3 separate regions of the Homo sapiens genome follow, and regions 2 and 3 are each linked to region 1. The links come from fine-mapping of genetic effects on gene expression. A gene starts in region 1. Each other region holds a variant in brackets. All regions are shown on one strand. Distances are from middle to middle. Region 1 holds the start of ZNF839 (zinc finger protein 839). Region 2 has its middle 26 kb from the start of HSP90AA1. Region 3 has its middle 15 kb from the start of WDR20.

The links. PIP is the estimated chance that this variant, and not a neighbour inherited with it, causes the effect. A credible set is the group of variants that fine-mapping cannot tell apart.
Region 2: its variant is the best candidate, but not a certain one, in a credible set for the expression of ZNF839 in whole blood (INTERVAL, PIP 0.81).
Region 3: its variant is the best candidate, but not a certain one, in a credible set for the expression of ZNF839 in whole blood (TOPMed, PIP 0.62).

The regions. Positions count from the first base shown.
Region 1 is chr14:102,314,826-102,325,505 of GRCh38, reverse strand. It overlaps ZNF839 (zinc finger protein 839), which reads right to left and starts at 5,760. Exons shown (of 8, transcript NM_018335.6): 1 at 5,453-5,760. The coding sequence starts at 5,740. It overlaps TRI-AAT5-4 (tRNA-Ile (anticodon AAT) 5-4), which reads right to left and starts at 8,414; the gene lies at 8,341-8,414. RefSeq lists enhancers at 5,141-5,250, 8,625-8,724 and silencers at 5,351-5,540, 5,601-5,700.
Region 2 is chr14:102,107,999-102,118,678 of GRCh38, reverse strand. It overlaps a transcript of HSP90AA1 not described here. Among named protein-coding and RNA genes, the nearest start is that of HSP90AA1, 26 kb to the right of the region's middle. The variant C/T (reference allele first, on the strand shown) is at 2,730.
Region 3 is chr14:102,119,559-102,130,238 of GRCh38, reverse strand. It overlaps a transcript of HSP90AA1 not described here. Among named protein-coding and RNA genes, the nearest start is that of WDR20, 15 kb to the left of the region's middle. The variant T/C (reference allele first, on the strand shown) is at 7,410.

The DNA.
Region 1 (10,680 bases):
AAACAAAAACAGAGACCACAATGATACATTTTACATTATGACCTAGTACACGTGTATATAAATATCTGCATACATAAATAAAATAAAGTTGATGGAACTACTTACCATCCCTATATAAATGCCCGCTGATTGTATCTATTCTACATCATTTTTTTTTTTTTTTTCTGAGATTAGGGTCTCACTCTGTCACCCAGGCTAGAGTGCAGTGGTGCGATCTCAGTTCACTGTAACCTCTGCCTCCCAGTTTCAGCGATTCTCTCATCTCAGCCTCCGGAGTAGCTGCCACCACACCCAGCTAATTTTTGTATTTTTTGGTAGAGACGGGTTTCACCATGTTGGCCAGGCTGGTCTCAAATTCCTGACGTCAAGTGATTGATCCACCTGCCTTGGCCTCCCGAAGTGCTGGGATTTCCAGCGTGAGACACCACGCCCAGCCCTATTCTACATCACTTTTTAAAAAATACTAGTCATAATCCACTAAGTTGATTTCATGACCAGTGAAGAGATAAGAGCCTTCCTAACAGTTTTACCCATGTGAGGTTTTTCTTTTTCTTTTGAGACGGACCCTTGCTCTGTCGCCCAGGCTGGAGTGGAGCGACACTATCTTGGCTCACTGCGACCTCCGCCTCCCGAGTTCAAGCAATTTTCCTGCCTCAGTCTCCCAAGTATCTGGGATTACAGGCACGTACCACCACGCCCCGGCTAATTTTTGTATTTTTAGTAGAGACAGGGTTTCACCATTCAGGCTGGTCTCGAAATCCTGACCTCTGGCGATCCACCTGCCTCACCACACCCGGCTGGCTTTTTGTTTGTTTGTTTTTTTGAGATGGAGTCTCGTTCTGTCGCCCAGGCTGGAGTGCCACCACAACCTCCACTTCCCAGGTTCAAATGATTCTCCTGCCTCAGCCTACTGAATAGCTGGGATCACAGGTGTGTGCCACCATGACCAGCTAATTTTTTTTTAAGATGAAGTCTCGCTCTGTGGTCCAGGCTGGAATGCAGTGGCGCTATCTCAGCTCAGTGCAACCTCTGCCTCTCAGGTTCAAGCAATTCTCCTGCCTCAGCCTCCTGAGTAGCCCTGATTACAGGCGCTTGCCACCACACCTGGCTAATTTTTGTATTTTTAGTAGAGACGGGGTTTCACCATGTTGGTCAGGGTGGTCTCAAACTCCTGACCTCATGATCTGTCCGCCTCAGCCTCCCAAAGTGCTGAGATTACAGGCATGAACCACCGTGCCCGGCGTTACCCATGTGTTTTTGCTTGGAGTTTTTAGTACTCTAAAAGCAGACGTAATTCATAATGTGGGCCCATGTTTTTTAAAAAGTTTTTAATGAAATTCTGGAAGCGACAACAAAGCCATAAGGAACAATGTTACCCAGCTTCCTACTGCACAACCTGCATGCCTGTTTCTTCACCCTGTCCTGAATGTGCTGTTTAGCATTCTTATGATTTTAAAAATTTATGTGGCATATGCAGATATTTCTAAAAATATATAGTTCAGTTCTGAAATGTTTTTAAACTTTATATAAATGATATCATCTCCTGCAACTTGAAAGGGCTTTTCTGGGTTTCTTTACTTCATTTTGCTTCGTGAATTTTATCCACATTAACATGGGTAGGTGTCACGGGTTCATTTTCTCTGCAGTATGAGTACACCAGTCTCCTATTGATGGACAGGTGGTTTCCAACCTTCTGTTCCTAAGTTCTGCTCTGAATCTTCACGATGTATGTGTATACATGTGTGACTTTCTCCAGGGGCATGTACCTAGGCGTAGGGCTGAGTATCTTCAATAACTTTTTACAAATATATCTAACAAAATTTCAAATACATGTGCTTTTTGACCCAGTAATTCCATTTCCTGGATTCTATAAAAAAAACACGCAGGTGGCCACAAAGATGTTCTGTTCTACGAAGTTCAGGGCAGCACTGTCTATAATAGCAAAACACCTACCAAAGGGGAGAACTACCTTCAATAACACCCCACAAATATTTATTGAGCACTGACCGCGTGCCAGAAACACTGTTACAGGTGTCAGGGAAACAGCTGTCTTACAGCTTAGGGGAGAAGGACGGGGAAGCAAAAGAAACAAGGCTCCCGCCCTCACAGAGCAGAAATAATGAGCACTTTCCTCCAGGGAGAAAAAGAGGCAAACCTCATCATCCAGAGCACGATTTCCCAACCAACATTTCAGAACATAATCCTTTGACATGGGTGGCTGGAGGATGGCCAGCAGCATCTCTGCCTCTACCCACTAGATGCCAGTAGTGATCCCGAGTCCTGACAATGAAGACATTGCCAAGTGCCCCCTGTGGGGCAAAACTGCCCTCGGTTGAGAATCACTTATTTGGGACGACCAACTGGCCCTCTTTGGACTCAACCTTCTGGTGTGACCCTCAAACAGTGGAGCATCAACAAAAATGTCACACAGGACAGAATAAAGATCCTCACTGAGATCAAGCTGGAGTGTGTCTCTCGTCTGTCTGTTATACTAGTACAAATAGCAGAGGTCAGCCAACACTTTGTATGAAGAATTGTAGAGAGGTGGCACCATAGCCCTGGGAGTCCCCGACTCCTGGGCTACTTGTGAAACAAATGACAACGAGATTGACTGCGCATATCCTTCAAGAACCCCATCTCTTTCATTTTACTGCCAGTCACACCTGTAATCGCAGTGCTTTGGGATGCTGAGGCGGGAGGACTGCTTGAGGCCAGGAGTTCAGGGCCAGCCTGGGTAACATAGCGGGACCCTGTCTCTACAAAACATTTTTAAATTAGCCAGGCATGATGGTGCATACATGTAGCCCCAGCTACTCGGGAGGCTGAGGTGTGAGGATCATTTGAGCCTGGGAGTTCGAGGCTGTAGTGAGCCGAGATCAGTCCAGCCTGGGTGAGAAAGAAAGACCCTGTCTCAACAAAACCCCAAAACAAAAACATAATACATATACATACATACACTAAACCCTACTGTTTGAGGATAACCACAGCGGCAAAGCCAGACTAATAATGTATTTATCCTCTATCCTCACTGGCTTACCCTGTGGGTATTATGCTTGATACTTTGTTTAGTTAATTCAGCTAATGTTAACTCAGTATTTCTGGGTGGAATACATACACAGGAGCCAAGTCCTAACCTCACCCTTGAGATGGGGGCGGTTTCCCCTGCCATACCTCAGTCCCCGCAGACCTGCTGAATCGGATCTCCTGGGGTGAGGCCCCAAGATCTGCCCTTTCAAAAGCTCCACTGATGATTCTGAAGGCAGACAAGCTTCCCTAAGGAATGCAGACAGGTGAGGCAGACAGGAAAAATGTCATCATGGTACAACAGGTGCAATCAAGAGGCAGGAACAGCCCAGAGGTGGTGGGCTGCCCAGAAGCTGTGATCTCTGAGGGGCATTTTGAAGGCTGGGAATTTTTGCCAGGTGAAAAAGGGCACACATCCATGTGTAAATGCACGGATGCATGAAAAGGGGCACAGCATGTTGGATGGAACTGGAAATTTCTGTGGGGTGGGGAAGAGGGAGGATGGGGAGAGACAGGGGCCTCGATCTGACCCAAGTGTGTCCATTGGTCTGTGCTGCTGATCCACACCACCCCCACAGCGAACACTGGGCCTTCTGCTGTGGTTGTTGAAATGCACCCCCAACCGCCCCAGAACCTGCCTCTCCCCTTCTGCATTTTCAACTCAGACGCACCCTTTCAAATCTAGTTCAGATACCACTTCTTCAACAAAGCTGCTTCTGATGTCCTCAGCCAGGAACAATCTCCCTTTCTCTAAATACATTCAGTTCTTTTTCACTATCTTTAGCTTTCTGGCCTTGACTAGAAGTTATCTGGGTCTTGTTTCATCTCCTGTTAGTTCATAAACTACTGAGGGGCAAAGTACGCATCCGGTTTGCCTTTGTGGCCTCCATGACACAGCTGGGGCTGAAAGAGTATTAAAAGAATGTGCTGCAAAGGTATATTATTGCAGGTAGAATTTATATCGTCTCCATTAGATTAGCTACAAAATACAATCCCATCATGCTGCCTAAGCTCGAATAAGTTTGCTTTTGCTTTACGAAAAATATGTCATTTTTGGATTCCAAACCCAAAAAGCTGTGGCCATATTCAGCAGGGTATGGTGAGGAGTACAGGGGCTAGGGAGAGCAGCCACACCTGAGGGACCTTGGGCAAAGCCACGCAACCTCCCTGAGCTTGTTTCCCACCTGCAAAATGCCGGTACAAAAACACTGCTGAAAACTGAGCGGCCCCGCACAGCGCCGGGCGCAGAGCAGAGGCTTTGCAGATAGCTGCCCCCAGATGGCACCTTGCAGCCTTCTGACCCAGACCAAAGTCCAAAAAGGTTGACTTACCCAAGGTCACACCTCTAGATAGTGATAGTGTGGCATCTGGACAGAATCACACTGGTCTTCCTAAACCTTAGCAAGACAACTCTCCAGTCTTGATGATTAACTGGATACAACCCTAAGCAGCTAACATCAGTCAAAAAAACTCAACGAGTGAAGGTTCCTGATTCTATTCCCTAACCCGTTTCTTCTAGTGGAAAAAGCTGTCTTCTTTTGGCAATTTTGGGGTGAGACTAATTTTGTTTACAACCCCAGCGCTGAAATGGGGTGGAATTTTACAGATGCCGTGTAGGCCCTCTGGCTTCAGGCGCTATGCTTCACCCTCCGGAGTTGGGCGACCGTCTTCTAGTTATCACCCCCCTAGCAACCAAAAGGTGTGTGGCCCAGGAAATAAACCCACTGGGAAAGGATGTTTTGTAGTATACAGAGTGCTTTCACATATTCCAAACATTGTGTATCAGGCACTGTGCTGGGTACTGCGGTTACAAATCAGTCACTATCACCCAGGATGTTAAGTCCTGCAGCGAACTAGTGTATTGTGCTTGACTTTGTTCCAAGCCTGGGCCTTGGCACCTTACAACTGAAAAGCTAAGTTGGTTCCTTTTAATTCATTTATGTTTCAGCTCCAGTGTCTGGCCTACGGGACCACCCACTCTAAAGCAGCCCCCGTCAATCCCAGAACCTGCCTTATGTTCGTTCTTCAGCAAGTGTGTTCAAGGCTTCACCTCCTGCACATAGTGGGGAGTGCTGGGAACACGGTCTCTAAGTGCTCCACAAAGGCTGAACCAGCGGTGAAAGGCCTGTAAGAAGAGCTAGGGAGCACGCAAAAGCCCCCAGCAGGGCTGTGAAGGCAGAGAAGGCACGAGGGCGTTCCAGGCACAGGGCCCAGCGTGAGCAACCGCTCCTAGAGTGAGGCTCCTGGGGTGAAAATGCCAGGGTGGTGACAGGTGGGGGCCGAACGCCGTCCCTAAGAAGCTCAGCCTGGGGACGCCCTGAGTCTTAACCCGGGCGGATACTGGCCTCCCCGGACAAGCAGCTACCCCGCCGCGGGGCGTCGGCCCCCTTCGGGCCTCAGTTTCCCCACGTCCCTCCCGACGCCTCACCTGGGGCGGGAGCAGGCGCGGCAGGCGCGGGGGCTCGGTGCCCCGGCCCCGCTGCAGGGCGGCCTGTTGGGCCGCGTCCCGCAGCCGCCGCGCCGCGTCCCGCAGCACGAAGGGGGGCGGCGGCGGCGGCGGCTGCGCCTTCGTCACCTGCTCCAGGACCTGCCGCAGCTGCTCGGGGCCCAGCGGGGCCACACGTGCGACGCTGCCGCTCTGGCCCGGAGGAGCCGGGCCGCCGCCGCCGCCGCCATCCTCGCTGCCGCCCCCAGCCTCCGGCTCCGCATCCGCCATGGCGGCCGAGGCGGGGACTCGAACCCGGGTCGCTGAGCGACGGCGTCTCCAATGTACGTCACCTAGGAGAGGGGCGGGCTACGAGTGCCTCGCAGGCCAAGACACCTAGGAAGGCGACCGTGTCTGGCCGGGAAAGTCGTGGAGTGCCCCGCCCCAGCCGACAACCGCCGCGGCTCTTAGGGCTGATCAGCAGAGCGGACCCCCCTTATTTTCCTTATTGCCTGTCACGGATGTGTTTAAGACTCACCTTCTCTGGGAGCTGTCCCGGATCTCCCAGGGGGAGGTCTTCGGGGTTTCAGAGCCCCTGGCCCAAAAGTTACCACAATATCCAAGTGTTCTGACGTCATCATGCATCCGAATCAGCGGAGGATGCTGTCTGGAGATGCAGAGTACTGTGCCCACCCCTAAACATTTGGATTTATACATCTGGGAGGGGACCACAGTTTGAATTGTTAACGAGAGTGTTTCCCAAATTTTTGCCTTGTCACCGTAGCTTCTCTCTACCCACCCACCCAGATTGGGTGCACCTTGAAGGGAGAGATGATATATTACACAATCGGTGCCCAGCACAGGCCCTGCCCAGAACACAACGCACGCTCAGGGCATGAATGATGGATGGATGAATATGAATAAACGAATGAGTGAACGAATGAATGAACCCACCCTCTCTCTATCCATCCAGCTCCACTGCCCCATCTTCCTCAGCCTGATCGCCTCTCCTTCTTACGGTTGAGGCTCTGTGCGCCCTCCGAATCTTGTAGCTGCAGGTGTGTACACATGTCCCAGCTCCTTTCCCCAGGGAGAGCAGGAGGTCCACTGGTCCACAAACCCTTCTTAAGCACCTGGTGGGTGAACCGCTGTTTCCGCCCTGGGGGGTATACAGTCTAGGTGCCGACCCCCAAGGAGGAAACTTCCCAAGGGGGAAGGAGGAAACTGGCATTTGCAGCACAGTATGATGAGCGCCGAAGCCGGTAAAGTAAGGCTGGCGGCCTGGGTGGCGTCAGAGAAGGTTCTGGAAGATCACCACCATCCTCATCAATACTCACATTGCATTCACGATGATCCCTTCCGTGTTATTTTTTAATGGTGAATTTTATATTATGGGTATCTTACCACAATTTTTTTTTTTTTTTGAGACAAGATCTCACTCTGTCACCCAGGCTGGAGTGCAGTGGCACAATCTCAGCTCACCGCAACCTCCATCGCCTGGGTTCATGCGGTTCTCCTGCCTCAGCCTCTTGAGTAGCTGGGATTACAGGCGTCCGCCACCATGCCTGGCTAATTTTTGTATTTTTAGTAGAGACGGGGTTTCATCATGTTGGTAAGGCTGGTCTTGAAACCCTGACCTTAGGTGATCCGCCCGCCTCGGCCTTCCCAAGTGCTGAGATTACAGGTGTGAGCCACCACACCCGACCAGATTTCAGGAATTCACATGCCTTCTGCTCAAAATAATTTTCATGCCACCGTGGCATATTCTAAACCCCTTCAAGCTCAGGAAACTTGAGGGCAGCAACCTCCACCGATTCCTCCATGCTGTGTCCCTGCATCTAACAACGTGCCTGGCACGACTATTAAAAGATGTGACATCCATCCTGTGTACAGATGTCTATTTTAAGTGTCAGCTGCCCCAGGCTCTCCTAACTTTGCTTATAATAGCAGCAGCGCCATCGGCTGGCATTTATTGAGAACTTTTACTACACCCTGGGCACATACCAAGGTCTGTAGATGTTGAGCTGCTTCTTATTTAGGTCAGAACTAGTAGCTGTTTCCACTGTAGAATTTTCAAAAACAGGTGGAGCCCTTGCCGGATCCTGACATAAAATGGCATCAACCTTATACAACCGGCTTTTGTTCAGCTGAGCACACCTGACCACCCTAGAAACGAACCGAGTGAGAAATTCATCCACTTGCTCTGGCTTCAAAATGTAGAACCAAGAGGAAGAAATGTGAAGCCTAAGATGTCTCCGAAAAGAAAAGAGGGGGGACAAAAAGCAAGAGAAGGTTTCCAGAGGCTTCCACAACCTGAATGCCTCACTAAAAACATGGCAGTCATCTAGTGGCTGGTCACTGTCTCCAGCGGGTTGGGGTTTGTGTCTCACCGTTTTGCTCCCAGCCTAGGAATGGTGCTGGGCATGCAGTAGCTCTCCATATGCATCTGTGGAATGCATTCATTCCAGACCTGGATTTTCACCTCCAAGACTTCCCCGCAAGTGGGCCCAGGGAACACTAGGCGGTGATATCTGCGAGCACCTGTCTTCACTGGGCGGTTCCTCCAGGCCAGACGCAGCCTCAGGAAACGTGGGGGGTGGGGGCGTGGGATGTGCATCGGTTGGATGTCCAGAGTGTCCTTTAAAACGACAAAAGTAAAAGGCCTAACCAATGGCATTCTAAAACAGACCCTTCAGGTGGCGGCGCGGGGACTCGGGGTGAGGAGCCACCGCCCCAGCGCGCTCTGAGTTCCTCCCGCTCTCCCCAGCAGGTAGCCTTGGATAACCTCTGGGCCAGTCCAAAAGATTCCGCAGTTCTCTCCTGCCTGCACGCCGGTTACAGTATCAGAAAGGAACATTGCGGGGACCAAAAAAAAAAAAAAAAAGTTAGCCTGGCCCGTACGGGGATCGAACCCGCGACCTTGGCGTTATTAGCACCACGCTCTAACCAACTGAGCTAACCGGCCGCCTGACGTTGGGCCCCCACGGGAGCGCCTAAGAGGGCTCCAAGCCCGCGCCCGCCCCCTAGCGACTCCCTGCCGGGCCGGCGCCGCTGGCTGCATTCCGCTTCGCCACAGCCGCGACTTCCGACCTCTTCACAGTCATCCCCATTGGCCCGATGCAGAAACTAAGACTTAGGGGACTTCAAGGAGAAGGGAGGCGACTCCCTACAGCGAAGGCGGCTTTTTTTCACAGGAAAAATGCAAATTGCACATGGGAGGCTTAGCTCCGCAGTGAGAAGGTTTTCAAACATGCCAACTCAGTGTTGTTTTTATCTCCGAGAATCCTGCAGCGTGGAAACTTCGTGTAACAGAGGCCTTTAGCATGGTTAAATCAAGCTTGGAAAATACAGAAAACCGGACAAAAGAACCACCGAATTCCCTATCGCCCAATAAACAAGGGCCGCTGGGGTCTTGGCTTCCTTCCTGCTGGTTTTTTTTCCTACAGTACACGTGTATTTATACACACACACACACACACACACACACACGGAATCCAAAGCCTTGTATGAAGCAGTCTTTTTTTTGAGACGGAATCTCCCTCTGTCGCCCAGGCTGGAGTGCAGTGGCGAGATTTCGGCTCAATGAAGCAGTCTATTTTTTATCTTTCTTTTTGCATTTAATATTCTAGAATAAGCATATCCCTAAACAATTGCAAATGTCACTTTAAATGATTTCTCAGTGTTTCATTGAGTGGACAAACCACCATGGCTTTCTCCTTTTTTTTTTTTTTTTTTTTTTAGTGTCTGTAAAAATGTTTTCATTTTGCTCTCTCTCTTGTTAACTGAGCACATAAATAAATCACATGGTACAGGCAGAAGGGTTGAAACAGCCACTGAGTAGGCAACGATGGTACCCACCCCTAAAAGCGTAGGATCTGTATGCAAAAAAAGAGAGAGAGAAAGAAAAGGCTGGGAAGACAAACCACCACCGTGTCCACCACCCAGCCTGCATGTCCCAGAGGCCTACTGTTCTCCTACAGGGCCTGACTATGGTGTGCTGCGTGGCCCTCCCACTCCAGGAGCACCAGCTTTTTTTTTTTTGAGACAGAGTCTCGCTCTGTCACCCAGGCTGGAGTCCAGTGGTGCAATCTCAGCTCACTGCAACCTCTGCTTCCTGGGTTCAAGCGATTCTCCTGCCTCAGCCTCCCAAGTAGCTGGGACTACAGGCACGCGCCTTGTCCGGTTACTTTGTGTGTGTGTGTGTGTGTGTGTGTGTGTGTGTGTGTGTGTGTGTGTATTTTTAGTAGAGATGGGGTTTCACCATGTTGGCCAGGCTGGTCTCGAGCTCCTGACCTCAAGTGATCCGCCTGCCTCGGCCTCCCAGAGTGCTAGGATTACAGGCGTGAGCCACCGCATCGGGCCAGCTTTTTAACATTATACATTCTGCTCTGATTACTCCACTAAACTGCTTGGACTGAGGTATCGTCAGGGTTCTATGTCACAAGCAGCAGAAACCGAGTCTAGCTGATTCGAAAAGATTTTATGTAAAGGATGTTAGGTAGGTCACCCTCCACGAGTAAGGCTAGAGGACCAGGTTTAGAAAAACGGACACTCAGTGAAGACATACTCATTCAGCCCGGCAGTGCCCTGGCCCCCAATCAGCTGTGAGTCAAAGAAACCTAATCCCCATCCTGATGGAGCTCTCCGCATAACAAGGAAGGCGGATATTATAGGGAACGGAGAAGATTAGGTGGTGTGCTGGGAGGCTGGGCAAGCGTCCTGAAGTCTGGAGCACTTTACTGTGTCCAAAGGACAAGGATAGATGAGCAGGCCAAAGGGGTAAAGCCCTCTCACAGAGCACTGGTGGGGGTGCAGGCATCCTGTCCATTTTGCTTACAGCTGAATGAATGCCCAGAACCTAGCACACTCTCTGGCATAGCAATAGGTAAGAGTCACATGGGTTTAAAACAGTCAGATCAAGTCATTTCTCTGCTCACACTCTCTCCTTTTGTTGCAGCCCTAACAGGCCTGCCAAATTTAGCAAATATAGATCAAGATGCCGGGTTAAAATTGAATTGCAAAAGGACAATGAAACTTTTTTTAGTGTAAGTATGTCCCACGCCATATTTGGGACATACTTATACTAAAAGAATACATGTGCTGTATCTGACAACCCTACGCCCAGGGTAACATCCCGTTGAAAGACACCACCGGACCTGCGCCTTTCCCCTCTGCCCTCCTGCACCCCTGCCCGGCTCCCTCCGCGGCAGCCCCTCCGCCTCCTCCCTGGC
Region 2 (10,680 bases), 210 kb after region 1:
TGTATGTGATTTTTAAAATGTTATTAATATTATTTAAAATCTGTAGGTAAAAGATGAATGTTCAATAAATAGGATTAGGATTGCTGGGTAATCATCTAGGAAAGTGGATGAAAGATTAAAATATAAAAAACAAAAAGTGACCGGGCATGGTGGCTCACACCTATAATCCCTGCACTTTGGGAGGCTGAGGTGGGCAGATCGCTTGAATCCAGGAGTCCAAGACCAGACTGGGCAACATAGACCCCATCTCAATTAAAAAAAAAAATAAGTAATAGAAGTAATGAAGGGGAGACATTTTTAATCTCAGAGTATGGACATTCTTTCTAATATGACACAAAATTTGAAAGCCATAAAATAAATCGTGATCACATTAAAAAGTGGTTTTTTATCTGATAAACCACTATAAGTGTTGCAGGACCTTAGGGGTTATCATTTTTCTGGCTAGAAACCTCTGTGGCTGGTGGCACCCTTGTCTGAATTTTGCTTGGGCTCACTGGGCTCATTCTGCCCATTCAGCCTGGCAGGCTGTGCTTGGCTCATGCTACCAGCCTGGATCCTATGCCTCCAGGGGAGTCTGTAAGTCAGGCATGGAGCAGTGAGGGGTGTATGAACGAGCGTGGAGTCCAGCCACTGTGCAGTCAGACATGCCAGCTGCTGCCATGGAGCAGGCAGCTCCAGGTGCCAGCACAGGCAATGGCTCTCTACAAGGCTGCAGCTGGACCAGGGACATCGCAAGCAGCTTCCCCAGCTGGCACTGGGGAATGCAGTGGTGCCTAGAAGCTTGGAGACACCAGGAACTGCAGGGCCCCAAAGAGAGACTCAAAACCCTGGCTCAGGGAGCTCCCAGGTCTCCCAGGTCTGGGCTTCCCAAAGGGCCACAGCTCTTCTCTCCTTCTCTTCGCCCGCAACGTGGTGAGCAGTGGGCATGTTTTAACCCTGTTTGTGTTACAGTTCTTTTAGTTTCGCCATTCGGTGGGTCCTGAGTTTTTGTCCTGTGAACAAGAAGAATGAGGTATGCAGACAAGTGAAGGGTGAGCAAGATGAAGAGGAGCTTTATTGAGTGGTAGAACCGCCCCGAGGAGACCTGGAGGAGGTAGCTCCTTTCTGCAGCTGGGGGGTGTTCAGCTCCTAGCAAAGAGGGTAGCTCCTCTCTGCTAAGCAGGTCATCCCGAGGAGTGTTTAGCTCCTAGCGTGGAGGGTAGCTCATCTCTGCAGCTGGTCATCCTGTCTTCAGCTCTGCTCTGGCTGAGTCCTGGGCTTTTATGGGCCTCAGAGGGGAGGAAGTGCACACTGATTGGTCCATGGGTGGCCATAAGTGGGCCTGGAAAAGGCACCACAAATTCCCACTCCAGTCCATGGGACTGGCAACCTGGCCCCCAGCCTTCAGGCCCTCCCTGGCCTGAAGGTGGTGCTTCACTGGGGACCCACCCCTTTCCACCCTGGAGCCGGTCTACTTCCTACAACTTTTCACGGCACCCAGGCTGTTCCTGCTGAGGGGTGCCTGCAGGCCAGTGCCGAGCTGCCCTTAGCACCCCCCTTGGCGTCTCTCCCATGCTCCTCATTACCAAAAGTCCAAAGAGGGAGGTTGACATGTTAGTGCTGCACTGAGCGGGTGCACACCCAGCCAGGCTGGGACAGCGCCCAGGCTCAACCCCCATGCCACTCTGAGATCGGAGTGGGTGCCAGGAGTGGGGAGAGGCCAGGCAGCAGAAGCAGACACCCCCAAGCCTGTGCCCTGAGGGCACAGAGTGCAGAGATGCCCAGATCCTACACCTGGGAGGGTGGGGCTCCCACCACTGCATGGAGCTTGCAGGCAGCCTGGGGCAGGGGCTCCAGGTCCTCAATGGGCCCCTTTCTGCCTGCCCACCCCATGCCCAACTGCTTCTCTGTGCCCAGCCCCATTGTGGCAGCGCCCAGGGTGGTGGGTTCTGTGGAGGGCAGGGAGTGTTGGGGAGGGTCCAGCTTGTCCCTGGCTCCTGCTGGCTCTGTGGTTCATGGAACTGCCCCAGGCACAGCTCTACCTCCTCCCCATGCCCTCTCCGCAGTGGCAGTAGGCTAGAGTGGTGACACGGGGCCAGGGTCCAGAGCAGCAGAGGCTCCAGGCCTGGGAACAGGTCTCACCTGACCATGCAAGGGTGGGGGCAGCACAGTCACCTGCCTCGGGAACGTGGAGCACAGGGGACCCACTGCCACCATTCCTGCTCCCGCAGCTGCCCCTGCCGCCACTGCTTGCACCTCCCCGCTGTGGCTGGTGCAGTGGCCACTGCCATGATAAGCAAGATCAACAAACAACAAACTGGAAAAAGAATAAAGGACTCCTAGAAATCAATAAAAGAAAGGCTAAAAATCTAATGGACAAAGGATCTGAGCAAACAGGAACAAAACAGAAACACAACTCTCTCCACCATTAAAAGATGCTCGGTCTTGGCCGGGCACAGTGGCTCATGCCTCTAATCCCAGCACTTTGGGAGGCCAAGGTTGGTGGATCACGAGGTCAGGAGATCGAGACCATCCTGGCTAACACGTTGAAACCCTGTCTCTACTAAAAATACAAAAAAAATTAGTTGGGCGTGGTGGCGGGCACCTGTAGTCTCAACTACTTAGGAGGCTGAGGCAGGAGAATGGTGTGAACCCGGGAGGCAGAGCTTGCAGTGAGACGAGATGGCACCACTGCACTCTAGCCTGGGCGACAGAGCAAGACTCCATCTCAAAAAAAAAAAAAAGATGCT[C/T]GGTCTTAAACTTAAGAAAAATACAAATTAAAATAACAGTTAAGCTGGGCTCAGTGGCAGGTGCCTATATCCCACCCACTCAGGAGGCTGAGGCAGGAGCTTCAGTTGAGCCCAGAAGTTCTAGGCTAGCCTAGACAACATAGGGAGACCCCATCTCTAAAAAATTTTTTTTAGAATCAGATAAATTTTTCTTTTTTTTCTTTTTAAGACAGGGTCTTGCTCTGTCACCCAGGCTGGAGTGGAGGGTCACAATCATGGCTCACTGCAGCCTTGACCTCCTGGGCTCAACTGATCCCACCTCAGCCTGCCACAGTACTGGGATTACAGGCGTGAACCACTGTACCTGGCTAAATATTTTCACAGTCAAAAAGTTTGATAACTGTTTACAAGGTATTAGGAAACAAATATGCATATTATTGCTGTTGGTGTAAAACTGTTACAAGCGCAACAGAGAACAATTTGGCAATAACTAATCAAAATCTAAAATGTACGTACTCTTCAATCCAGCAATCTCACTTCTTGGAGTTTATCTTACATAAATCCTTGCAAATCTAGATTCCTAGATTCCTTCTCCCATCCTAGCAGAAGTCTAAGGTTTATTTTTTGTAAAAGTAAAACACAGAGTTGTTTTGTTTGTTTGTTTGTTTGTTTGTTTTATGAGATGGAATCTTGCTCTGTCACCCAGACTGGAATACAGTGGTATGATTTTGGCTCACTCTACCTCCCGGGTTCAAGGGATCCTCTTGTCTCAGCCTCCCTAGTAGCTGGGGCTACAGGCATGCACCACCACACCCAGCTAATTTTTTTTTTTTTCTTGCTCTGTGGCCCAGGCTGGAGTGCAGTGGCGCCATCTCGGCTCACTGCAAGCTCTGCCCTCTGGGTTCACGCCATTCTCCTGCCTCAGCTTCCCGAGTAGCAGGTGGGACTACAGGCGCCCGCCACTACACCCAGCTAATTTTGTTGTTGTTGTTGTATTTTTAGTAGAGACGGGGTTTCACCGTGTTAGCCAGGATGGTCTAAATCCCCTGACCTCATGATCCACCCACTTCAGCCTCCCAAAGTGCTGGGATTACAGGCGTGAGCCACCATGCCTGGCCAATTTTTTTAGTTCTAGTAGAGATGAGGTTCCAACATGTTGGCCAGGCTGGTCCCAAACTCCTGACCTCAGGCGATCTGCCCGCCTCAGCCTCCCAAAGTGCCGGGATTACAGTCAGCAACCGGGTCCGGCCTAAAACAAAGAATTTCTATACAGGGAATACTAGGCCAAATTAAGGCAAGAGTAGTCTCTTGAAAATGGGGATTACGTGAGTGTGTGATTACTGAATGCTGGAATAATCCCCTGCCTTTTCTCTCCACTGGGCTTTCAAAACACTGGCACCCAAATCTTTACTCTCCATGCAGAAATTTTAGAAGACTCTTTTCTGGAGAATCTGACAATCCCCAGGATATAGGTTTAAGAGGTTTCCCAACAAATTGCCCATGTAGAATACCCTGCAGTGAATCTCAAAGTCTAAAAATCCTGTAAACCATGTGCTCAGATCTTCCAAATGGCTTTTTAGTCCTCTACTCTTAGTCATAAGCAGACATCCAAGGATTATCATACATCTGAGAAAAGCCTCTAAACGTGACTTAGAGATCAAAATAAATGACATGGCCAGGTGCAGTGGCTCACACCTGTAATCCCAGCAATCTCAGCACTTTGGGAGGCCGAGGTGGGCGGATCACTTGAGGTCAGGAGTTCAAGACCAGCCTATGCAACATGGTGAACCCCATCTCTACTAAAAATATAAAAATTAGCCCAGTGTGCTAGCGCACGCCTGTAGTCCCAGCTACTCGGATGACTGAGGCATGAGACTCTTGAGCCTGGGAGACATGAGATCATGACTCTGCATGACAGAGTGAGACTCTGTAACAAAAAATAAATAAATAAAATAAATGGGGGCGGGGTGCAGTGGCTCACGCCTGTAATCCCTGCACTTTGGGAGGCCAAGGTGGGCAGATCACGAGGTCAGGAGATCGAGACCATCCTGGCTAACATGGTGAAACCTCGTCTCAACTAAAAATAGAAAAAATTAGCGGGGCATGGTGGCAGGCGCTTGTAGTCCCAGCTATTCCAGAGGCTGAGGCAGGAGAATGGCGTGAACCTGGGAGCCAGAGCTTGCAGTGAGTCAAGATCATGCCACTGTACTCCAGCCTGGGCGACAGAGCGAGACTCCGTCTCAAAATAAACAAATAAATAAATAAAAATAAAAAAATAAAATAAATGAGTATGCCTGGTGCGGTGGCTCACGCTTGTATCCCAGCACTCTGGGAGGCCAAAGCAGGCAGATCACTTGAGGTCAGGAGTTCCAGCCTAGCCAACATGGTGAAATCCCGTCTCCACTAAAAATACAAAAATTAGCCAGGCATGGTGGGGCATACCACACCTGTAATCCCAGCTACTCGGGAGGCTGAGGCAGGAGAATTGCTTGAACCTGGGAGGCGGAGGTTACAGCAAGCCAAGATCACAACATTGCACTCTATACTTCACTCCAGCCTGGGTGACGTAGTGAGACTCTGTCTCAAAAATAAATAAATTAATTAAAGAAAGAAAGAGAGAGAGAGAGAGAAAGCAAGCAAGCAAGCAAGCCGGGCGCGGTGGCTCACACCTGTAATCCCAGTACTTTGGGAGGCCAAGGCGGGCAGATTGCCTGAGGTCAGGAGTTCGAGACCAGCCTGGCCAACATGGTGAAACCGTGTCTCTACTAAAAATACAAGAATTAGCCAGGTGTGGTGGCAGGCACCTGTAGTCCCAGCTACTTGGGAGATTGAGGCAGGAGAATCGCTTGAACCCGGGAGGCAGAGGTCGCAGTGAACCAAGATCGCACTACTGCACTCCAGCCTGGGCAACAGAGTGAGACTCCATCTCAAAAAAATAAATAAATAAATACAAACAAAACAAATGACACAAATGAACAGAAAAAATAATATTGAAGAAAACAGGCTGTACAGGGAGATGCGAATTTACAACAAGTGCTAATATTAGTAGTTTAAATAGATATTGCATCTATGAAATAAGAACGGTCTGCATTCTTGTAAAAAACTTAGGAAAATAAAAAACCTCTTGAATATTAAAAACTTAACAGCAGAAATTAAAATGCTAGAAGGGTTGGAAGAGAAAGTTGAAATCAACTGGGCACAGTGGCTCACGCCTGTAATCCCAGCACTTTGAGAGGTAAAGCCAGGAGGATGCCTTGAGGCCAAGAGCTCAAGACCAGCTTGGGCAACATAGTGAGACCTCCATCTCTACAAAAAAATTTAAAACTTAGCTGCACATGGTGGTGTGTGCCTCCAGTCCCAGCTACTCAGGAAGCTGAGGTGGGAGGATCTCTTGAGCCCAGGAGTTCAAGATTACAGTGAACTATGATCACACCACTGCACTCCAGGCTAGGCAACAGAGCAAGACCCTGTCTCTTTTAAAACAAAAAAAAAGGGAGAGCCAGGCACGGTGGCTCACGCCCGTAACCCCAGCACTTTGGGAGGCTGAGACAGGCAGATCATAAGGTCAAGAGATCAAGACCATCCTGGTCAACATGGTGAAACCCCATCTCTACTAAAAATACAACAAAAATTAGCTGGGTGTGGTGGCGGGCACCTGTAATCCCAGCTGCTCAGGAGGCTGAGGCAGGAGAATTGCTTGAACCCAGGAGGCACAGGCTGCAGTGAGCCAAGATCGTGCCAGTGCACCCCAGTCTGGGAACAGAGTGAGACTCCGTCTCAAAAAGAGAGAGAGAGCATATAATAGAAGACCACCTAGAGAATCTAAGAGGTCCAAACTCCAAACACTGTAGGAGGAAATTATCCACAAAATCTTCAAGTAAAATTTCCAGAACTGAAGAACATGAGTTTACAGAGGGGATGAGCCCACCAAGTGTCCAGCAGAATGGATAAAAATAGATCTATACCAAGGTACATCACTTTGAAATTTTAGAACACTTGGAATAGAAAAGATCCTACAAGCTTCCAGAGAGAAGAAATGTCATATAAAAGGGATCAGTAATCAGAATAGCTTGACTTGTAAACACCACCACTGAAAACCATAACACAAGTAGGAAAAAAAGCTCTTTTATGCTATCTTGATGTATCTTTGCCTCTGTTGTTCATTGATGGATCCCAAGTGCCTAGAGGCAGTGCCAGGCATGTACTAGAGTCTCAGTAAAAATTTATTGAATGTAAGAGAACAATTGAGAAATGGCTTCAAAATTCTGAGGAAGTATTTATTCCAGCTTATAACTAAACCAATATATCACTCAAGTATGAGTTTAGAATAAAGATATTGTGGGACATGCAGGGTTTCAATTTACCCTCTTTGTGCCCCTTCTCAAGAAGCTGTGAAAGGATATGCTTTGTTTTGGGCCAGTTTCTCCCATTTGGAAGGGGTGTATTTACCCAATGCCTGTACCCCCATTGTATCTAGGGAACATGAAAAGGGAAATCTAGGCAGAGGTTCCCAAACCTCAATTCTTGACTTCCATGCACCTGCAGGCTCAGTACCATGTGGAAACTGCCAAGGCTTGGGGCTTGCACCCTGTGAAGCAATGAGCTGTTCCTTGGCCCCTTTTAGCCATGGCTGGAGTGGCTGGGACTCAGGGCACCAAGTCTCTAGGCTGCACAGAGCAAGGGGGCCCTGGGCCCGGCCCATAAAACCATTTTTTCCTTCTAGGCCTCCAAGCCTGTGATGGGAGGGGCTGCCGTGAAGACTTCTGATATGCCCAGGAGACATTTTTCCCATTGTCTTGGGAAATTAACATTCAGCTCCTCGTTACTTAAGCAAATTTCTGCAGCCAGCTTGAATTTCTCCTCAGAAAATGGGATTTTCTTTTCTAGTGCATTTCCAGGCTGCAAATTTTCCAAACTTTTATGCTCTGCTTCCCTTATAAAACAGAATACTTTGGCTGGGTGCAGTGGCTCATGCCTGTAATCCCAGCACTTTGGGAGGCAGAGGCAGGTGGATCACCTGAGGTAAGGAGTTTGAGACCAGCCTGGCCAACGTGGCAAAACCCCATTTCTACTGAAAATACAAAAAATTGGGCTGGGCGCAGTGGCTCACGCCTGTAATCCTAGCACTTTGGGAGGCAGAAGCGGGTGAATCACGAGGTCAGGAGATCGAGACCATCCTGGCTAACACGGTGAAACCCCATCTCTACTAAAAAATAGAAAAAAATTAGCCGGGCGTGGTGGGGGGCACCTGTAGTCCGAGCTGCTCGGGAGGCTGAGGCAGGAGAATGGCGTGAACCCGGGAGGCGGAGCTTGCAGTGAGCCAAGATCGTGCCACTGCACCCCAGCCTGGGCCACAGAGCAAGACTGTCTCAAAAAAAAAAAAATTATCCGGGCATGGTGGTGGGCGCCTGTAATCCCAGCTGCTTGGGAGGCTGAGGCAGGAGAATTGCTTGAACCCGGGAGGCAGAGGTTGCAGTGAGTCGAGATTACACCATTGCACTCCAGCCTGGGCAACAGAGTGAAACTCTCTCAAAAACAAACAAACAAACAAACAAACAAACAAACAAAACTGAATGCCTTTAACAGCACCCAAGCCACCTCTTGAATGCTTTGTGGCTTAGAAATTTCTTCCACCAGGTACCCTAAATCATCTCTCTCAAGTTCAAATTTCCACAAATCTTTAGGGCAGGGCAGGAGCAGAATGCCACCAGTCTCTTTGCTAAAACGTAACATGAGTCAGCCGGGTGCGGTGGCTCACACCTGTAATCCCAGCACTTTGGGAGGCCAAGGCAGGTGGATCACAAGGTCAGGAGTTCGAGACCAGCCTGGCCAATATGGTGAAACCCTGTCTCTACTAAAAATACAAAAAATTAGCCAGGCGTGGTGGCAGGCACCTGTAGTCCCAGCTACTCAGGAGGCTGAGGCAGAAGAATCGCTTGAACCCAGGAGGCGGAATTTGCAATGAACTGATATTGCACCACTGCACTCCAGCCTGAATGATAGAGCAGGACTCCATCTCAAAAAAAAATAAAATAACGAGTCACCTTTGCTCCAGTTCCCAACAAGTTCCTCATCTCCATCTGAGACCATTTCGGCCTGGATTTCATTGTCCATATCATCATCGGCATTTTGGTCAAAGCCATCCAACAAGTCTCTAGGAAGTTCCAAACTTTCCTACATTTTCCTGTCTTCTTCTGAGCCCTCCAAACTGTTCTAACCTTTCATCATTACCCAGTTCCAAAGTTGCTTCCAGAGTTTTGGGTTATCTTTTCAGCAGTGCCCCACTCTGCTGGTAACAATTTACTGTATTAGTCCATTTTCATGCTGCTGGTAAGGACATACCCAAGACTGGGAAGAAAAATAGGTTTAATGGTCTTACAGTTCCACATGGCTGGGGAAGCCTCACAATCATGGCAGAAGGCAAGGAGTAGCAAGTCATGTCTTACATGTATGGCAGCAGGCAAAGAGAGAGCTTGTGCAGGGAAACTCCCATTTTTAAAACCATCAGATCTTGTGAGCCTTATTCACTATCATGAGAATAGCACAGGAAAGACCCACCTCCATGATTCGGTTACCTCCCACCAGCTCCCTCCCACAACATGTAGGAATTGTGGGAGTTACAATTCAAGATGAGATTTGGGTGAGGACACAGCCAAACCGTATCAGGGATATTCAACTTGGAACTACTGTTACATACAACATGGATGAATCCCACAGACCTAATGCTGAGTGGACATAGCCAGACATGAGAGTACGTATTGTGTAATTCCATCTGTATGAAGTTCAGAAATGGACAAAACTAATCAATGGTGTCAGAATGTTGGTTATCTTTGAGGGAGATATTGATAGGGAAGAAACATAGGGAGCCTCTGGGGTGCTGGAAAGTCTGCATCTTGAGCTGGGTGTTGGCTGTAAAAGTGTATCAAGTATTACACTTAGGATTTAGCACTTTATGTAAATTATACCTTAATTTAAAAAGTTAAAAAATTCAGCTGTCCAATAAAAATTAAAATAAATGAAATGCAATCCACATAGCCCTGCTAAAGTCAGGAAGAGAATGACCACTATCTCCACTACTGTTCAACAGTGTATTGAAAGTATTAGCCAAAGCAATCAGATAAGAGTTACAAATGAGGGGCTGGGCTCAGTGGCTCACACCTGTAATCCCAGCACTTTGGGAGGCCGAGGTGGGTGGATCATGAGGTCAGGAGTTCAAGACCAACCTGGCCAACATGGTGAAACTCCGTCTCTACTAAAAATACAAAAAATTAGCTGGGTGTGGTGGCAGGCACCTGTAATCCCAGCAACTCCAGAGGCTGAGGCAGGAGAATCGCTCAAACCCAGGAGGTTGAGGCTGCAGTAAGCCAAGATCACGCCATTGCACTCCAGCATGGGCAACAAGGGCAAGACTCCATCTCAAAAAAAAAAAAAAAAAAAAAGTTATAAGTTAGATGTGTAAAAATTAGAAAAGAGAAGTTAAAAGTTTTACTATTTGTTAATGATAGGATCAATATTTACAAGGCCCAAGAAAATCAACTAAAAAACTGCTATTAATAAAACAATTTTTAAAAAAAGAATTCAAAGCTAGGCACCATGGCACAAGGCTGTAGTCCTAGCTTGAGGTATGAGGATTGCTTGAGTCCAGGAGTCCAAGTCCAGCCTGGGCAACAGAACGAGGCCCAATTTTTTTTTTTTTTTTTTTTTTTTGGAGACAAGGTCTCGCTCTGTTGCTTACGCTGTAGTGCAATGTCATGATTATGGCTCACTGCAGCCTCAACCTCCCAGTTTCAAGCAGTCCTCCCACCTCAGCCTCCCAAGTAGCTGGGTCCACAGGTACATGCCACCACACTTAGCTAATTTTCTAAAATTTTTGTAGAGACATGGCCTCGCCATGTTGCCCAGGTTGGTCTCAAAATGGTCTCAAGCAATGCTCGTGTTTTGGCGTCCCAAAGTGCTGGTATTACAGGTGTGA
Region 3 (10,680 bases), 200 kb after region 1:
CCAGCGTTTTGGGAGGCCGAGGCAGGTGGATCATGAGGTCAGGAGTTCGAGACCAGCCTCACCAACGTGGTGAAATTGCGTCTGTACTAAAAATACAAAAATTAGCCAGGTGTGGTGGTGCGGGCCTGTAATCCCAGCTACTCAGGAGGCTGAGGCAGGAGAATCGCTTGAACCCAGGAGGCGGAGGTTGCAGTGAGCCGAGATCACACCATTGCACTTCAGCCTGGGCGACAGAGCGAGACTCCATCTCAAAACAAAACAAAACAAAAAAAAAATTTCACACAAAAACTTATACGTGAATGTTCACAGCGGCATTATTCAAAATAGCCAAAAAGTGGAAACAAACCAAATGCCCATCAACTAATGAATGGATAAACAAAATGTGGTATATCCATACAATGGAATATTAATCAGCTATGATAGAAAGGAATGTAGTTGTCGGGCGTGGTGGCTCACGCCTGTAATCCCAGCACTTTGGGAGGCCAAGGCAGGCAGATCACATGGTCAGGGGTTCGAGACCAGCCTAGCCAACACGGTGAAACCTCGTCTCTACTAAAAAAATACAAAAATTAGCTGGGAATGGTGGCGTGCACCTGTAATTCTAGCTACTCGAGAGGCTGAGGCAGGAGAATTGCTTGAACCCGGGAGGCGGAGGCTGCAGTGAGCTGAGATCAAGCCACTGCACTTTAGGCTGGGCGACACAGCAAGACTCCAACTCAAAAAAAAAAAAAAAAGGAATGTAGTATAGAGACAGAAAGTAGATTTGTGGTAGCCTAGGGATGGGGAAATGACAGGGAAGGAGTCGTGACTGCTAATGAGCCCAGGGTTTCTTTTAGAGGTGATAATTGCACAGTTCTGAATATACCAGAAACCACTGAATAATAGTCGTTGGGTGAATTATATGTGCAGTTAAAAAAAATCAAACCTAGCCAGGTGGGCGTGGTGGCACATGCCTGTAGTAATCCCCTGTAGTAATCTCGGGAGGCTGACAGGAGAATTGCTTGAACCCTGGAGGCAGAGGTTGCAGTGAGCTGAGATTGCCCCACTGCATTCCAGCCTGGGCGACAGAGTGAGACTCCGTCTCAAAAAAAAAAAAAAAAAAAAATCAAAACTAGAGCCACTCTATCTATAGTGCTCAATTTATTTTTCAAACAGCTGCTAAATTATCCAGGCATAACTACTTATTAGGTTGTTTGAACTGTACCTGGTAAATGGAACTGTTAGATTTTTCTATTGGTCCAGGGAGCGCCATAAAGAAATTCTGAAACACTAAGGGCTCTGAGAACCAAGAAAACTTGGGAATCACCGTAAGGCATAAACCTTTCTCATTTCTTACCTTCCAACTTATACCTCCCTTCTTATCTCTATCTGAACCCATTCTTATTCTTCTAGGTTAAAAGAAGAAGTACCTCTTCTCTTCTTTTCTTTCTTTTTTCTTAAGATGGAGTGTCGCTATATGGCTCACGCTGGAATGCAGTGGCATGATCTCAGCTCCCTGTAACCTCCGCCTCCTGGGTTCAAGCAATTCACTGTCTCAGCTTCCTGAGTAGCTGGTACTACAGGCATGCACCATCACACCCGGCTAATTTTTTTTTTTTTTTTTTTTTTCCGAGACGGAGTTTTGCTCTTACTGCCCAGGCTAGAGTGCAATGGTGCGATCTTGGCTTACTGCAACCTCTGCCTCCTGGGTTCAAGCAATCTCCTGCCTCAGCCTCCCGAGTAGCTGGGATTACAGGCGCCCGCCACCATGCCCAGCTAATTTTTTGTGTTTTCAGTAGAGATGGGGTTTCATCATGTTGGCCAGGCTGGTCTCGAACCCCTGACCTCAGGTGATCCACCCACCTCGGCCTCCCAAAGTTCTGGGATTACAGGCGTGAGCCACTGCGCCCATCCTAATTTTTGTATTTTGGGTAGAGACGGGGTTTCACCATGTTGGTCAGGCTGGTCTTGAATTGCTGACCTCAAGTGATCCACCCACCTCGGCCTCCCAAAGTGCTGGCATTACAAGTGTGAGCCACCGTGCCCAGCCACCTCTTCTTTTCAAGATCAATTTCTCCACCATGTTCTTGTAACAAATTCCTGGTCTCCTCTAGGACACCCTGCTCCAGCAGCAAGTTACTGTTTCTCCTGGGCAGACTCCCACACTGCACTGCCTCCTCCCATGTAGTATGAGCCTGCTGAGCAAAGAAGAGAGCAGCACAGAAGAACCAATGTTCATTTCTGCTTGAGAGTTTGGCAGTGTGTTGGTAATTGTTAATAGAATTGCTTCTTTCTCCAATTAAAAACAAAACATGGCTGGTGTGGTGGCTCACACCTATAATCCCAGCACTTTGGGAGGCCGAGGCAAGAGGATAGCTAGAGCCCAAGAGGTCACAACCAACCTGGCAACATAGCAAGGCCCTGTCTCTATAAAAATAAGGTTAGCCAGGCGTGGCAACACACACTTGTAGTCCCAGCTACTCGGGAGGCTGAGTTGGGAGGATCGCTTGAGCCCAGAAAGTTGAGGCTGCAGTGAGCTGTGTTCATAACACTGCATTCCAGCCTGGGCCACAGAACAAGACCTTGACTCAAAAAATGTATGTGTATATATATAATAAAACAAAACACCTCTGCCTATTGCTTACTGTCTCCAGTCCCAGCCTTGAAAGAGTCACAGCTGTCTCCTACCCCCTCAAATAAATATAACTCCATGTGTGCTATTTTAATTATCTTAGACTCTAGGGATAAGACTGAAATGTGGGTTCCAAACCATAGTAATAAAGGGAAAATACAGGAAGAAAATAAGAGAACTGTCATAAGGCTGGGACATTCTGCCTCAGTCACAGAACTAATTGAATTATTACAGTATGTTAGAACTGAATTCAAATTAGGACATCACTTTTTGTAGATAGAACTCATGCTAGCTTTGTTTTTCATTGTTAAGCTCCTCCAGTAAGAAGTAAAACAACAGCTTATCCAAGCAGCTTAATGAGCATTGTGGGTTTTATCTTTGCAAAGATTAGAGCAAGGACGTTCAAGCTTAATAGCCTCAATAACAGTTCCTAACTTTTTTCTATCTGAGATCCTGAAACAGGAAAGATGAGATTTTTTAAAGAGCTAGTATGCTATATGTAAAGAAAAAATTAACTTGTTACTTATATATAATTATAAGTACTTATTGGGAGGAGGCTATGAAGAGGTGATTTAAAAAAAAAAAAAAAGTACTTCTCACTCTCTGAAGAGCCTCATCAGCATTATTGGCCTTTTGAGAAGCAGCCAGTAAAACAGTGATTTTTAGCCATAGATTGCTGTAAAGTAGTAGCTGGGGCCTGTGGCAGGAAGTAAGATTCATTTGTTAATTTAAAAATTCATTTTAGGAGTTACTGATTGGGAAAACAAAAACACAGTTTATGATATTAAAAGAATCTAGTCGGCCGGGCGCAGTGGCTCACGCCTGTAGTCCCAGGACTTTGGGAGGCCTAGGCGGGCAGATCACGAGGTCAGGAGATCGAGACCATTCTGGCTAACACCGTGAAACCCCATCTCTACTAAAAGTACAAAAACAAAGTTAGCCGGGCGTGGTGGCGGGCGCCTGTAGTCTCAGCTACTCTTGAGGCTGAGGCAAGAGAATGGCGTGAACCCGGGAGGCGGAGCTTGCAGTGAGTCGTGGTTGCGCCACTGCACTCCAGCCTGGGAACAGAGCGAGACTCCGTCTCAAAAAAGAAAAAAAAAAAGAATCTAGTCGAGGATGCAGTCAGTATCTACCCATTTAGACTCCGAGTTTCTTGAGAGGAGGAGCCATTCTTTTTCCGCTTTAAGAATCCCCTAAGATATTGCTAAGCACATAGTAAATAATCAACACATACTGAATTGGATTTCTAGTTTGTTCCTCTTCCATCTTCTTCATATTTTTGCGTTTTGTTTTTCTCTTTTCCTGGTGTTTCCATGTCCACGTGTCCCCTTACTGAGCTATGGTAACTTGTAGTTCCTCATACCTGTCACACCTGTGCTTTCATGCTTTTGCATAAGTGAGATTCCCTTTCCTCTCTGTTCATCAGAGGGAATAGAAGGCCGCTCATCCCAGAAGACTTCACTCCAAAAATCACTCCTGCCTGGTATGCTCTCTGCTTATTCATCCCTCACTTTTCAACTTAAAGGCTGCCTTCTCAGAGAGGCTTTCCCTGAGGCCCCAAATGTAAGTTATGTCACCTTATTTTCTCATGGAATTATTTCCCGTATAGCACTTAGCACAATTTCTAATAATATATACATCATACACACACATATTTATATGTTTTCTTAAATAAAAGCCACCTCCCTCAGTAGACCGTAAGCTTATAATAGGGATCCTGCCTATTTTTGTTTGGCATGTCGTGTGTAGATTGGGGCCTGACATTCAATAGGTACTCAATACACACTTGCCAAATGAGTGACTCACCTTTGAGAAAGATTCTCTTTTAGCACCTTATGTTAATACTTAACTTTATTATGACATTTATTACATTGCTGTCTCATCTCACTAGGTTGTTCGCTACACACGATTGCAGTTCACAGACTTAAAAATATGCTCATGCATGCTTTCTTTTCTTATACCTTCCCCCTGAGGTTAAACTCTGCCTTAGGTCACATTACTCATGCTTTCAGAAAGCTCTGCTTCTAGCTTTCTGAGCGGGGGAGATTCAGCCCCTTGTTTATTTTATGTATTTGGCTTTCAGGTAAATATCTACTTAGCATGCCCATTGTTCACTCACTTCCTTAGTCCCAGCTCATTCTGCTTCCCTCTTCCTAAAAAATAACAAAAACGAAACACTCCTGTCCTTGGAGAATAATTTTTGCATATGGTCACATTTCAGTTTAGTAGGATAGAATATTGAATTTGCTGGATAGGTTTTAACATTGCAAGAATTATCAACTGGGTTTTTATTGTGGCTCTAGATCTGTTTGTTGGGATAAGAAAAGATTATGAGGTTGGGCACAGTGGCTCATGCCTGTAATCCCAGCACTTTGGGAGGCTGAGGCAGTCGGATCACTTCAGCCCAGGAGTTGGAGACCAGCCTAGGCAACACAAGGAGCCCCCATCTCTACAAAAAATAAATAAAAATTAACTAGATATGGTGATACATGGCTATAGTCCCAGCTACTTGGGAGGCTGAGATGGGAGGATCGCTTGAACCCAGGAGTTTGAGGCTTCAGTGAGCTGTGATCACACCACTGAACTCCAGCCTAGGCAACAGAGTGAGACTTCATCTCAAAAAAATAAATAAAGATTATGAATGTGGGCACTGAATGATTTTTCTTTTTACCATGTCTTTCTCATCTATAGCAATGCTTTATAGATTGTTGGTGCTCAATAACTATTTAGTGGATTGAATATATACTCAAAAAAGAGCACTGGACTTAAGGTCAAAAGACATAACATAAATTCTATTCATGATCACATTATTTAATATTGTGACAGTATAGTACATAAAAGTTTTAAATGAAATTATTATTTATATATGATTAGATGTTGGAAATCTAAGAGGATCAACTGAAGAACTGTAAGAAACAATAAGAAGCCAAGCATGGTGGTATACACCTGTAATTCCAGCTAATCAGGAGGCTGAGGCAGGAGGATTGCTTGAGGCCAGGAGTTCAAGTTTACATTGTGAATCATGATAGTGCCACTGCACTCCAGCCTGGGGGATATAGCTAGACTCCCATCTCTAAAAAAGAAAAAAAGAAACAATAGACAATGTAATATAGCAGATTTAAAAAGTAGCATTCAGGCCAGGCACAGTGGCTCACACCTATAATCCCAGCACTTTGGGAAGCCAGGGTGGGCAGATCACCTGAGGTTAGGAGTTCAAGACCAACCTGGCCAACATGGTGAAACCCCCACCTCTACTAAAAACACAAAAATTAGCTGGGCATGGTGGCGAGCACCTGTAATCCCAGCTATGTGGGAGGCTGAGGCAGGAGAATCACTTGAACCCAGGAGGCAGAGGTTGCAGTGAGCCCAGATCGTGCCATTGTGCTCCAGCCTGGGAGACAAAGTGGAACTCCATCTCAAAAAAAAAAAAAAAAAAATTAGCATTCAAACATCAATAACTGTCTCTACTTTCTCTGTCAAATAGTAACTAATTTAAGTATAATGGAAGAAAATGTCACATTCACAATAACAAAATAAGATAAATAGGCTGGACGTGGTAGTTTCCGCCTGTAATCCCAGCATTTTGGGAGGCAGAGGCCAGGAGTTCATGAGGAGCCTGGGCAACAGAGGGAGGCGCCATCTCTTCAGAAAATTTAAAGATTAACCAGGTGTGGTGGCACACACCTGTAGTCCCAGCTGCTGGGGAGGCTGAGGTGGGATCATTGCCTGAGCCCAGGAGGTTGAGGCTGTAGTAAGCCATGTTTACACCCCTGCACTCCAGCCTAGGTTGGCAGAATGAGACCCTGTCTCAATTAAAAAAAACACGGTTGCTAGTATACATCTCACAGGGAAGTGGGGGGTGCCTTTAATTTCATTGACTGCAGTGTGAATGGTGCCCCCTGAGATGAACCACACAGTTTCTCTGAATATATTTAGAACATGTTCATAAACTATCTGGACATAGTGGCTTATGCCTGTAATCCTAGTACTGTAGGAGACCAAGGCGGGAGGATCCCTTGAGGCTAGGAGTTTGAGACCAGCCTGGACAACATAGTGAGATGCAATCTCTTAAAAAAAAAAGAAAAAAAAAACCACAAGGTTTTAGAAACTACTTGAAGAGCACTCTTAAATTCTGAAGAAACAAAATAATTAAAACACCTCATTCTTAGGTAACAAGACTCAACATTGTAGAAATGACAGGGTTTTTTGTTTTTGTTTTTGTTTTTTGTCTTTCTTTTTTTAGACCGAGTCTCGCTCTGTTGCCCAGACTGGAGTGCAGTGGTTGTGATCTTGGCTCACTACTGCCTCCCAGGTTAAAGCAATTCTGCCTAACCCTCTCAAGTAGCTGGGATTACAGGGGCCTACCACCACGCTCGGCTAATTTTTTGTATTTTTAGTAGAAATGGGGTTTCACCATCTTGGTCAAGCTGGTCTCGAACTCCTGACCTCAGGTGATCCACCCACCTTGGCCTCCCAAAATACTGGGATTACAGGCATGAGCCACTGTGCCTGGCCAAAATGACAGTTCTGTCTGGATCAGTGTGTAAGTTGAATTCAGGCCAAATCAAAATCAACAGAATTTTATTTACAGTTTGTCAGAATTATTCTAAGTTTCATTTGGAATAAGCATTTAAGAATCACTATGAAAAAGAAGAGTATTGGCTGGGCGCAGTGGCTCATGCCTATAATCCCAGCACTTAGGGAGGCTGAGGCGGGTGGATCACCTGAGGTCAGGAGTTCGAGACCAGCCTGGCCAACGTGGTGAAACCCCGTCTCTACTAAAAATACAAAAATCAGC[T/C]GGGCATGGTGGCAGGCACCTGTAATCCCAGCTACTCGGGAGGCTGAAACAGGAGAATCGCTCGAACCCAGGAGGCAGAGGTTGCAGTGAGCTGAGATCGAACCCTTGCGCTCCAGCCTGGGCAACAGAGTGAGACTCTGTCTCAAAAAATATATATAAAAAATAAAAAAAAGAAAAAGAAGAGTAATGGCAGGAGTGGAGTGGGGGGACTTGCCTCCCAAATATTAATATGTATTATAAAACCTCTTAAGCTGGGCACAGTGGCTCACGCCTATAATCCCAACACTTTGGGAGGCCGAGGCAGGTGGATCACAAGATCAGGAGATCAAGACCATCCTGGCTAACACAGTGAAACCCCGTCTCTACTAAAAACACAACAAAATTAGCCGGGTGTGGTTGTGGGCACCTGTAGTCCCAGCTACTCGGGAGGCTGAGGTAGGAGAATGTTGTGAACCTGGGAGGTGGAGCTTGCACTGAGCCAAGATCACACCACTGCACTCCAGCCTGGGCGACAGAGCGAGACTCCGTCAAAAAAAAAAAAAAAAAAAGTCTTTAAACAGATCCTTTTCCTAAAATGGAATAAGTACAGAATTAGACCCCAATAAAAATGGACATATGATAGAGATGGCAGGATTAATTTAAGAAGAGGTATTGGAACAACCAACTAACCATTTATAATTTTAAAATTGGATTCCTACTTCCCTCCTCACTCCAAAATAAACTCCAGATAGAGCAAAGATTTTAATATAAAAAATAACCATAAGAGAAAGAAATGACTTGAATAAATATATTTATAATCTTGAAGTGAGGAAAGCTTTTCTAAACATAGCCCAAAATTCAGAAGCCATAGGATATTTTTATTTTATGTCTTGCATGGCACAAGACACCATATGAAAAGACAACAACCTTGGAAAAAATATTCACAACACATATGGCAAGGGATTAACATCCTTAATAATAAAAACTTATTTCGAGCAATTAGAAAGAAAACCCAGTAGAAAAAAATAGGCAAAGGACATAAGCAAGCAATTCACAAAAGTTGCATTCATTAGGATTTTTGTTGATGACTTCTGAGTTTCCTGTCATGCCTAGAAAGAATTTCCCCACTCCAGGGTGCTCATTGTTTTCTAATAACTAAAGAAATGCAAATTGAAACTATTTTTTACTATCACATTGGAAAATATCAATTATCAATATAAAATTGATAATAGTGTTAGCACAGATGTTAATGTTGGCACAAGTATTAAGAAACAGGATGGGTTCACATACTTGGTGAGAAAAAAAACAGGCATTTTGATTTTCCATTAGTGAGAATGCAAGTTGCTGTTATTTATTTGGAGGGCAATTTGATCATTTCTGTCAAAATACTTATTGTAGTTATGTGATTTGACTCAACTCAAGTTCTAGGAATTTACCCGCATAAATGTACAAAGATTATGTGTATAAGGATTTTCACCAAAGCATTGTTCTTAATAGTGAAAAATTGGCAATAATCTAAGTACCCATCAATAGAGAATTCAATAAATAAATTATGGAAATGACATACTTTACAGCTGTTAAACAATGAATTCATAAACTTACATATACTGACATGAAAACATATCCAAAATATATTAAATGAAAAATACAGGCCTGGTGTGGTGGCTCACACCTGTATCCTAGCACTTTGGAAGGCTGAGGCAGGAGCATCAATCATTTAAGCCCAGGGGGTTGAAGCTGCAGTGAGTCATGATCACACCATTGCACTCCAGCCTGGGCCACAGAGCAAGACCCTGTCTCAACTTTACGTGTGTGTGTGTGTGTGTGTATGTGTGTGTGTGTGTGTGTGTGTATGTTGCAGATTAGTATGTATAATATTTCATTTTCTGAAAAGCAGAAATTTTTTTTTTTTGAGACTGAGTCTAGCTCTTGTTGCCCAGGCTGGAGTGCAGTGGTGCAATCTCAGCTCACTGCAACTTCCACCTCCTGAGTTCAAGCGATCCTCCTGCCTCTGCCTCCTGAGTAGCTGGGATTATAGGCGCCCACCGCCACGCTAATTTTTGTATTTTTAGTAGAGATAGGGTTTCACCATGTTGGCCAGGCTGGTCTTGAACTCCTGACCTGAGGTAATCGGCCCGCCTCAGCCTCCCAAAGTGCTGGGATTACAGGTGTGAGCCATCGCACCCGGCCTAAAAAGGTAAAATTTGTATATACCTATAACAAAATAGGTTTTATTAAACTCTGAGTTTGAGAACTGACTTCATTACTTACTAACACTTTCACTTTTTAGAGAGTAACCTCTCTAAATCTATTTTCTTGTGTTAAAGTTAGAGTAATACGTATTTCTTATGTGTGTCAAAAGTTCAAAAGACAAAATATATAAAATCTCTTTGTAAATGGTAATGTACTATATAAATATATGGTAATCAAACAAAAGTCTTTAAATGTAAATGACTCCCATAATCATCTGTATTCTTTTCGTGGGGGAGGGTGGGACAGGGTCTCGCTTCATCACCCAGGATAGAGTGCAGTGGCATGATCACAGCTCACTGTACCCTCATCCTCCCAAGCTCAAGTGATCCTCCCACCTCAGCCTCCTGAGTAGGTGGAATTACAGGCACATGCCACCATGCCTAGCGAATTATCTTTTGCAGAGATGGGGTCCCACTGTGTTTCCCAGGCTGGTCTCGAACTCCTGGGTTCAAGCAACCCTCCTGCTTCAGCCTCCCAAAGTGCTAGGATTACAGGCATGAGCCACCACACCCAGTCTGTATTCTAATAAAACTAAGTAGCCCTATAATTATTACTTTTTAACTTGATTTAATAACATAAAGCTTAATATCTTTTTGGTGTGATAAGTGATTCTTAAGTTTTTATAGCATAACATACCCCTTAGGAAACTTCAGGAAAGCTTTTAATTTCATTCTCCAACCCAAATGTATATGCATACCAAATTTTGCATACAACTTTATGGATCATATAGACACTCCCTCAAAACAAAATATCATTCCACGGATTACTGCTATGAATTCTAGTCTTCAAAATGCATAAAGAAGAGGAAAACGGCCGGGTGTGGTGGCTCACACCTGTAATCCCAGCACTTTAGGAGGCTGAGGCGGGCGGAGCACAAGGTCAGGAGATCGAGACCACCCTGGCCAACATGGTGAAACCCTGTCTCTACTGAAAATACAAAAATTAGCCAGGCATGGTGGCACGTGCTTGTAATCCCAGCTACTCCGGAGGGTGAGGCAGGAGAATTGCTTGAACCTGGGAGGCGGAAGTTGCAGTGAAC